Linked DNA regions of Homo sapiens. Changing the gene in region 3 together with the main gene of any one other region gives a genetic interaction. Each region holds a gene or a part of one and is shown on either strand. Other genes may lie near its edges.

Evidence for each region.
Region 1: changes in POLM (region 3) and PTTG1 impair growth when combined (synthetic growth defect), as found in Homo sapiens cells (one large-scale study listed by BioGRID).
Region 2: changes in POLM (region 3) and PTEN impair growth when combined (synthetic growth defect), as found in Homo sapiens cells (one large-scale study listed by BioGRID).

Annotation. Positions count from the first base shown.
Region 1 is NC_000005.10:160,424,855-160,427,204, reverse strand, and holds part of PTTG1 (securin), read right to left. Parts: intron 1-2,350. UniProt on the Homo sapiens protein: Regulatory protein, which plays a central role in chromosome stability, in the p53/TP53 pathway, and DNA repair. Probably acts by blocking the action of key proteins.
Region 2 is NC_000010.11:87,933,125-87,936,782, reverse strand, and holds part of PTEN (phosphatidylinositol 3,4,5-trisphosphate 3-phosphatase and dual-specificity protein phosphatase PTEN), read right to left. Parts: coding exon 3,532-3,658; intron 1-3,531. UniProt on the Homo sapiens protein: Dual-specificity protein phosphatase, dephosphorylating tyrosine-, serine- and threonine-phosphorylated proteins.
Region 3 is NC_000007.14:44,075,876-44,079,533, forward strand, and holds part of POLM (DNA-directed DNA/RNA polymerase mu), read right to left. Parts: intron 2,937-3,658; coding exon 2,865-2,936; intron 755-2,864; coding exon 634-754; intron 1-633. UniProt on the Homo sapiens protein: Gap-filling polymerase involved in repair of DNA double-strand breaks by non-homologous end joining (NHEJ). Participates in immunoglobulin (Ig) light chain gene rearrangement in V(D)J recombination.

The DNA.
Region 1 (2,350 bases), on a different chromosome or scaffold from region 3:
AAGAAATCCCATGGTCACTCAGACCTGGGTGCTTGTCACACTTTTTCTTAAAGGAATGAAAGAAGTCTATCACCTCAAGGAAAACTGACAGCCTTTGTTGCCAATGGCAGAATATAAAACGTTAAAATTTTGTCAAAAATTAAAAAATGAATATTTTTTTTTTGAGACAGAGTCTCACTCTTTCACCTAGGCTGCAGTGCAGTGGCACAATCTCCGTTCACTGCAACCTCTGCCTCCTGGGTTCAAGCGATTCTCCTGCCTCAGTCTCCCAAGCAGCTGGGATTACAGGTGCGCCCACCACACCCGGATAATTTTTGTATTTTTAGTACAGACGGGGTTTCACCATGTTGGCCAGGCTGGTCTTGAACTCGTGACCTCAGGTGATCCGCCCGCCTTGCCTCCCAAAGTGCTGGGATTACAGGCGTGAGCCACTGCATCTGGCCAAAAAAAGGAATTTTGGAAAACTTATCTGCAGTCATTAGCTTGACAGGTGCTTAGACTTTTCTGATGAGATCAGTTGTGGTATTAATGTGCTTTTGATATTGTATAATAAAGCATCTCAACATGTGGGTATCTACATATCTCAGTGAACCAGTATTTCTGAATGGTCAATGCAAGATAGATGCAAGAATATAAGATACATTCCAAGTGCAAAATAGACCAATGGATTTTACTGTCAAGATACAAAATGCTCATTGATACGGTTTCAGATTCCACATTGCAATTTTATATTCAGAAACAGCCACTTGTGGGTTTTAGTGTAGTGGCAAAAAAACCTATCCACACTTATCTGAAAAGACTATTAAAAACGTATCTGTGTGAAGCCAGGTTTTCTTCGTATATTTTAACAGATGTAAGAGTGAATATAGAATTTGATAAGAATCCAGTTGTCTTGTATTAAGCCAAATAAAGCAAATTTTCAAAAATATAAACCATGCCATTCTTCTCCAAACTTTTCCAGAACAAAAAATATTTTATGTTAAAAAAAAATTTACATTAATGTAATGTGATTACTTAGTGAATAAATATCTTAAGTTTCTCAGTCTTAATTTCTAATACAGAAAAGAGCAGATCACACAAGCAAAAGTGGTCTTCAATAATTTCTAAGAGTGTAAAAGGGTCTTTAAAACAAAACAAAAAAAAATGGAGAACCATTGTGTTAGGTAACATTCATTCTTAAAATCCAAGTACCTTACTTCTTAGCAATTATTTTTAAAAAGTGATTTTTCTGTACAGTAACAAAAGTAGGATTTAACACTGAATTTTCTTCAAGGAGCTGTTTTCTCAAAAGATTAGAAAATCATGGTTTTCCTTATCTTTGTCCGTAGGTGTGAAAGTTCTCTAAAGCCTAAGTACTCAAGAATTAGTCTGCTCTTTTACAAGCCTGGTAAAACCCAGAAGTCAAAAAGGAATTGAATGATATGTGACTATTTAACTTAAAACCACTGAATTGTAAAGGAAACCATAGACAGAAGACTCCAGAGGAAAGAAGTTTGCAATATAAGGGGAGCTAATTTTATCTACAAAGAGCTCTTTAATCAAAGAAAAACACAAACCGGAAGTTAATAAAAAAAGAAAAACTGTAAGTGGCCAATAATCAAATATGTTCACCATACACACAACAAATTTAAAACAATGAAATATTTCTTTTCTGATAAAGATTAGAGTTTTAAAACATTGATAGTGAACCTGGAGGAAGCAGACATCTTCATCCACTGTAGACGGATTTAACAATTTACACTATTTTGAAGGGCCACTTAGCAATATCTCTTTCCTGTAACACAGGATATTGTGGTCTTCATTCTTCATCAATATGCATAAATCTACCTCATTTTCCTCAATGGCTGAATGGTAATTATTAGCACGGATGCACCACATTTTATAATTTTAAAACTTAATCACACAAGCCCTTGAACTCAGCAATCCTTCTCAAAGTTTCCCTCCAGATGTACTCACAAACTTACAACAAGATCATTTCAAGAATACTAATCATAGAAATGTTTGTAGTTTCTAAAAGCCAGAACAATCTGAATGCAAATTAGTAAAATAACTACATGACCTCTTTGGCTAAATAAAAGGGTAAAAGATCCAGCTCAGAAATCCGTAAGGCCCTCCCTGATCTGATCCCACACCTCACCTGTATCCTCCTTTACCCTGCCTGTATTTTTCCTAGAACCACTTTAGTCTCTTTTCCTACCTCACGATCTTTGCACCACTTTGACCTACAATGCTGTTTTTTCTGGCTCACTCACAGTGAGATGACTTGTCCAGCATCTGACTTTCCCTTCAAATTATGGGCTCCCATAGGCAGGGCCCATCTTGTTAAACAGTGTGTCCAGGACCTAAGGAT
Region 2 (3,658 bases), on a different chromosome or scaffold from region 3:
AAGTCCTTCTTAAATGGCAAGTTCTCATCATCAGCAGAGCACAGCCAACTATTCTGAAGAAGCAGATACATCAGACAGGGTATGTATGCATATGTGTGTGGGTGAGAGTGTATAAGAAGGAGGAAAGAGGGAGAAAAAGAGACCACATGTGAGAGCACAGTTAAGTTGGAAAAGCCTAGACCATTACAAAAACTATTTGTTCCAATTAAAAATCATTGATTAAATCATCCTACTAGGATATTGATTGTAATGCTAAACAAACAAAAAGTCACACAGTTGAACAGTGAAGGCAAGTATCTTAGAAAGAGTCAAATATACTTGTAGCATGAAGAAGAATAAGACTGTTGCAATACCTCTATCAAATACTTTTCTCCATTCCAAAAAAAACCCTGACATTAAAAAAACAATAATAAAGTAGGTCACAAAAAGATTGGAAGTACCACCTTTCTTCAGATATGATTTCTCAGTATAGCCGGCTACAAGTTTTCATCAAATGCAAGCATGGTGACACAATCAAGGAAACATTCCCATTTTGGAATCTTTTTGGAAGCTTCAGAAAACATTAACACTTTCAAAATGGTAAAGTTTCTTTACCAAAAAACTTCTCCTGAAGAAACCTCAGTATTCTGTAGGCAGACAGTACACCTTACTGCCAGACAACACATCTGATATTGGGGCACTGGTAAAGACAGAAGCTCTCCATGTCATGGTCACCCACTGCTCTCTTCATCAGTATGCGCTAGGGTGCAAGACTGTCATCAATCCTGAAAGAAATCTTATCTCTTGTTGTGAAAGTATTCTACTGTTTCAAGTGCCAACCCTTGAATAATTCCCTGTGTAAGATGATTTGTCATGAAAAATCCACTATTGTGAAAGCTGCCAGATTCATGAAAGCCAAGACTTTCAATCAAGAGCTTCTCGAGAGGTTTTGTCAAGAAATGGGAGCACTATGAAGTTCTTTGCTATATATAAGTTCCCTGCTTTCAGAAGACAAATTCTACAGCCTGATACTGCTGTTTACAGGATAACATACACTCTTTTTAAACAGTTTAACTCTTCAACCTTGAAAGTAAAATGTGGAGTCATAATCTTTTCTTTCCTAACACAGCATTAATGATACAGATCTTGCCAAAAATGATCTCAGTAACTTGAAGGCAAAGAAAATGATGAAACATGAATTTATCTGAAGAGCCTTGGAGAATTCTTATTTCTTGACACGTCTACTTTCATCAGGCAATAGAATCTACAGATTCCATTTACTCTTCTTTCTTTTGTAAAATAGCATTTTCAGCACTTTTTACCAAAGTCAACACTGATTGGATATCAAAGATCATATAAAAGTTGCAAAGTCAAAGTCAAAGAGCATAGTTTCAACTTGTTATTTTAAAAGTTAAATAGCAGTCTTTTCATTAAAATTTAGTATTGAACAGAACTAAAGCTTAATTTTGGTTAATTTGTACCACTTAGATTTATTCATTGCTCTCATGTAGTAGCCACTGGTTTTTGCATAAAAAAGTGACATAGTTTTCATGAAGGTTCTTTTACATTCTGTCTAAAAGAATATATTTCAATGTAATAAAAACTGCAAAATTTTATGTACACTATGCACATTTTTTGAGGGGAGAACATTTATACCTTCCATCAGACTTTAAAAGGAATGTAACACAATTTAAGACCCCCTGGCTTAAATCTAGTGTTCTGCGCCTCCACATTACAAAATTTTTCTATTTTATTACAAAAAATTTTTTACCTTTTTTTCCACTACCAAAATATATGCTGCTCATCAACTCTGTTTTAAATTTCTACCATCGCTTTTGCTACTGCATTTTTTTTTTTTTTTGAGATGGAGTCTCCCTCTATCACCAGGCTGGAGTGCAGTGGCACAGTCTCGGCTCACTGCAACCTCCACCTCCCGGGTTCAAGCGATTCTCCTGCCTCAGCATCCTGAGTAGCTGGGATTACAGGCACGCGCCACCACACCCAGCTAATTTTTGTATTTTTAGTAGAGATGAGGTTTCACCATGTTGGTTGGCCAGGATGGTCTCGATCTCTTGACCTTGTGATCCGCCCGCCTCGGCCTCCCAAAGTACTGGGATTACAGGCGTGAGCCGCTGTGCCCAGCCTGCATTTTTAATCAGTAAAAGCAATTGTTTCCCTGCAGATGATAATGGGATAAATCAAAGTAAAAATCTTTAGATCCTCAGCTCTATAATTCATGCCAGTGCTATCATTCCAAGGTGCAAACAATATGCAGAAATGTAAGGCAATCTACCATAATCTTCAACATTCACCAAAATTATGCACTAATGTAAGATTCAATTTTGTAAACTATCAACAATAAACAGTATTTCGGCATCCTTATATATAATGCAAAAAAAGTCACAAAGGATAGGAAACAAGATATAAGAGGGGGTAAAGGAACAAGGAATCTATGCAATTACACAGCTTTAAATGATTAATACGATCATTCTATTTCTGTTTTACAGCTGAATTAAGAAGAAATTAGATTAACATGAAGGAGAACTCTCTAAATGAGTTTTTCTATCTATCTGGAGGGGCTTAGGCTTTGTCCTTCTTAGAGATGGAAAAATGTACAAAATCTCTTTGCATTAAATTTTAACATGTTTTGCCATACTTACCACCCAAAGAAATATATCAACAGCAAAATTAAATCACTGTAAAAGTTCTCCCAAGAGTTTTCTTTTTTCTTTCAGATGTACTATAAGAATTAAATTTGTCACTGATTTTTCAATATAGTCCTTAGTTTTCTGATCAAAGAATCGAGAATCTTCTATTAATCTAACTACATTTATGAATATTCTTATAAAAGAATAATTTTTATGGATTATAAAAGTTCACACTTTACTAGGTAATGGTATTTTATCCAAAGGCATTCTATGCTCAAACAAGCTTCAGAAATATAAAGCTTATTTTTGATTAATATGCTTTTTAAAAATGTTATTTTAGAAGAATTTTGTGAGACCAAATCTGCAATACAGTTAATGGGTAACATGTGCTAGTATGATATGAAAATGGTAGCGTGAACAGAAAAATGAAATCAATCAGTCATTTCTCATATAGAAATTGAGGCAGCAACTGATTTAAAAATTTAGAAGAAATAAGGATTAGCAACTATCTTTAAAACCTGTTTTCCAGGGACTGAGGGTGGGGAGGGAGGAACACAAGATGAACAAGATCTGAAGCTCTACTGGACAGCATAGTGACTATAGTTAATAATAACATTGTATAATTGAAAATTGTAGCTTGTAGATCTTAAATGCTTTCACCCTGGGGGGAGAATAATAATTATGTGAGGTGATGAATATGTTAAGTAGTTTGACTGTAGTAATCATTTCACAATGTATATACACATACATCAAAACATCATATTATACATTGTATTTATATATAATTTTTACTTGTCAATTACACCTCAATAAAACTGAAGGAAAAAAAGAAACCCAAAATCTGTTTTCCAATAAATTCTCAGATCCAGGAAGAGGAAAGGAAAAACATCAAAAAATAACTTACCTTTTTGTCTCTGGTCCTTACTTCCCCATAGAAATCTAGGGCCTCTTGTGCCTTTAAAAATTTGCCCCGATGTAATAAATATGCACATATCATTACACCAGTTCGTCCCTTTCCAGCTTTACAGTGA
Region 3 (3,658 bases):
CTACGGGCATCCACCATCACGCCTGGCTAACTCTTGTATTTCTCGTAGAGACAGGGTTTCACCCTGTTGCCCAGACTGGTCTTGAACTGCTGAGCTCAAGCGATCTACCCACCTTGACCTCCCAAAGTGCTGGGATTACAGGTGTGAGTCACCATGCCCAGCCTTCCTTCTCCATTTTACAGAAAATGTAACAGACTCAGAGAGGTTATTTCTTGGGCAATGGTCACCTACCTGGCAAATGGTAGATAAGACTCAAACCCAGGCCTAACAAACTTGAAAGCTGATGTTCTTTCTGCTGCTCAGTGCCACCTCTGCAGGCCTCCATGTACCAAGCACCACACTGGGCAGTGTGCCCAAGGCCCAGGCTGTCCCTGGTCACTGGTCAAAGTCTAACCAGTAGGCAGACACAAGCCCCTGGCATATCATGGAAGTTGCTGTGGTCAGCATCGTCCACTGAGAAAAGGCTTTGATAGATCCTGACTGCACTGGGTGGAGACCCCAGGAAGCCCACCACACAAAGCTGCCACCAAACCCTCTGCACCAGACTGCTCCCTTCCCTCTAGGGAGTTGATGCTGAGGGATCCAGGGTGCAGTTTAGGGAAGCCCAGGGCCCAGCCTCTCTGGAGGGCTCACCCGCTTTCTGCTGTTGGGTTAGTTTCTGGGGCTGCTCTCGGAGGTCATCTAAGGTTCGCAGTCCTTCCCGGTACCACCGGTCAGCAGTCTTCACACCGACCCCGAAGATCTGGGTGAAGAGCTGTGGGGAAGGAGCGTAGCCCGGTTGGGCAGAGCTCTCATGGCTAGACTCGGATGATCACCCGCTCCGGGACGGTGTGGCCCATGGAGCACCATGCACCAGGCAGGCGCCGTCCCCACTCGCAACCTGCCGTAGACCACAGGGCAAGGATTCAAACCTGGAGCCTGACTACCCAGCCTGCCGTCTCTGGGAACAAACCCACGCACACCCCTCTCCTCTCCTCTATGAAAGGGACTTACACAGCTCTAGCCTGTGATTCCAACATAATCAAAACAGTCACCCTAACACATCAGCACGAGGGGCTCCTAAGTCACTGGAAAAACCATGCCTCTCCCACCTAACAGAAGGTGGAACAAATTTCTGTGGTTCTCCTCCTTAGCCAACAGCAAAAAACAATGAGGAGTTAACAATCAAAAGGGTGGATTTAGGAGCAGAGTTGGCAGGGCTGGCTGGGGTGCTCACATATCTTCCCACAGAGGGTGGGCCCCAGCCCAAGCAAGTCACCTGCTTCAGGTCAGCCACTAGAGTCCCTCCCTAGGAATTCTGGATCTGAGACTGAGGGCAGGCCCACACAGTGGCAGAAGCTGTAGCCTGTGGCAGCCGAGCACCTTTTGTGGCCACATTTCCAACCGATGGAAGAAGCTGGTGCGTCGCAAGAGAGGGCGAAGCCACCGTGCAGAGGGGCAGAGGGGAGGAGGAGTGGCCTGGTGATACCCAGGTCGCTGAGCCCAGTTGTCCTGCAGACCGGCCACAGCCCTCCCCATCCTGGGCTCTGCTGGCCCTCCTTTCCTTTATTTTGTGAACCAACGGTGTGGGGTGGGTCACTGTCACTTGCAACCCAAAGAATCCTGACTAAAAATGATGAGATTAACCCAATTATATTGTTAATAAACTTCTCATTACTAATGTAATTTTCTGCCAGCCTAGATGCCTTCAGGGCTGGGGCTGAGGCTGACAGTGAAAGTACTCACTAACCTCACACCACTTCAAGGGGATTTCATCATCTTCAGGCCCCTCACTCCCACACTCACCACGGTGGCCCCACTCATCTGGTCCCCTGTCCCTGCCAGTGCCCCTTGCCCCCTTCCCTGCATATTTGAGCCCATTTGCCCTGCACACACTGCTCAAGTCTCTCCTCTTCGAAGCCCTCCCTGTCAATCCTGACAACATTCTGTGTGACCTCCCAAGGCCCCATCCACCCAGGAAGCCACACTTCACTGACAGTTATCCATGTGGCCACCGCTGTGACACCTCCAGCCACAAAGCCAGTTGGCAGAAGGGTGTCAAAGCAGGCACACCCGAGGCATCCAAAAGAACTCAGACGGCATTTCCCTATCAGACCAGGAGTGAGCAGAAACAGAGGGAAGGTGGCCATGGAAACAGGCAGGCTGACAACACTGAGAAAATAACACATAAGGTCCTGCAGAAGGCGGGCAAGGGCAAGCCCAGCATGCTCAGTGGCAGCACCCAAGGGTACATTTGGTTCACAGTGCTCTGTTTAAGATGCCACAGCATGTAATCTACTTGAGAATATTCCATCAAAAACAGTCAAGGCAGAGCGAAGTGGCTCATGCCTATAATCCCAGCATTTTGGGGACCAAGGCAGGAGAATCATTTGAGCATAGGGGTTTGAGACCAGCTTAGGCAACATTACCAAGACCCCATCTTTACGAGAAAGATTTAAAAATTAACCTGGTGTGGTGGCACATGCCTGTAGTCCCAGCTACTCCAGAGACTGAGGTGGGAGGATGGTTTGAGCCCAGGAAGTCAAGGCTGCCGTGAGCTGTGATCGCACCACTGTACTCCAGCCTGGGCGACAGAGCGAGACCCTGTCTCAAAAACAAAATAAAACAAAAAGCCCCAAAAGCCAGATGGTGCTGAGTGATCTAGAAAATTCTGTCCTCAAAACAAGCTTCTTCCTTGCCTGTCTCCACTTGGCTGCCTTGTGCATATCAGGTATCAGCTTAGCTGCCACTTCCTCGGCAAGACCTTCTCTGACCCCTGGGCTGGGTCAGCTGCCCCTGTTTGCCTCCCCGTGCATGGTGTGGACTGTGTTGTCATTCCCAGGGCAGGACATTCCTGGGGTAGGTCCGAGCCCTGCCCTGCGCACCTTCATGGTCTGGTACCTCTCTGAGCGCCGAACTCTCTCCACCTCCTCACACACTCCATGCTCCAGCAGCTCCTGGGGGAGGGAACAAAGCAGAACTCTAAGCCTGAGGGCGTGGGAAGAAAGAGAAGGGCGGGGAGTTAGGGTCAGGGCTGGGGGCCCAAGGACTGAGGCAGTCCCCTCCAACACCCGGCAGAGACAACTTTGTGAGGTCAGGGTCCAGTAGGACCTGGAAATGGAGACTGTGCCCAGGGAGGTGACCAAAGTTGCTGCCACACAGCTGGGAGGTCAGGGCTCCAGCCTCAAAGCTCCTTCGGGCCTGGAGTTACAGCAGCTGAGATGCCAGGTAACGTGGATCATCTCTCAGTCAAATAAGTCCCAAGATACATAAACAATTGCTTTTCAGAACATGTGAACTCAATACTACTTCATTTAAAAGCATCTTCTGTCACTGTGTATTCTTGCAATGAAAGTGCACTAAAGGACAACTAAACACACTGGGGCACTGAAAAGAGATGCTCACACTCAGGGTGCTCTCTTTCATTCCACTGTGGAGGGCAGTTTGGGACTAATGACAATGACAACAGTGTCACCCCTAGCCCTGCCAGGCCCCTCACAGCGCCATTCACTGGGTCCTCTAGGCCACCCAGGAGTAAATGGCTAGTGTGCACAGGAGGAATCTGAGCGCAGAGGGTGGCTTGTTGAGGCCTTGGAGCAGTGTCAGCACCCACGACTGTCTGTCCTCACCCACCCCCACAGCACCCTCTGCTGTCTCACCAGGCCCCAAGGCCTCCCCA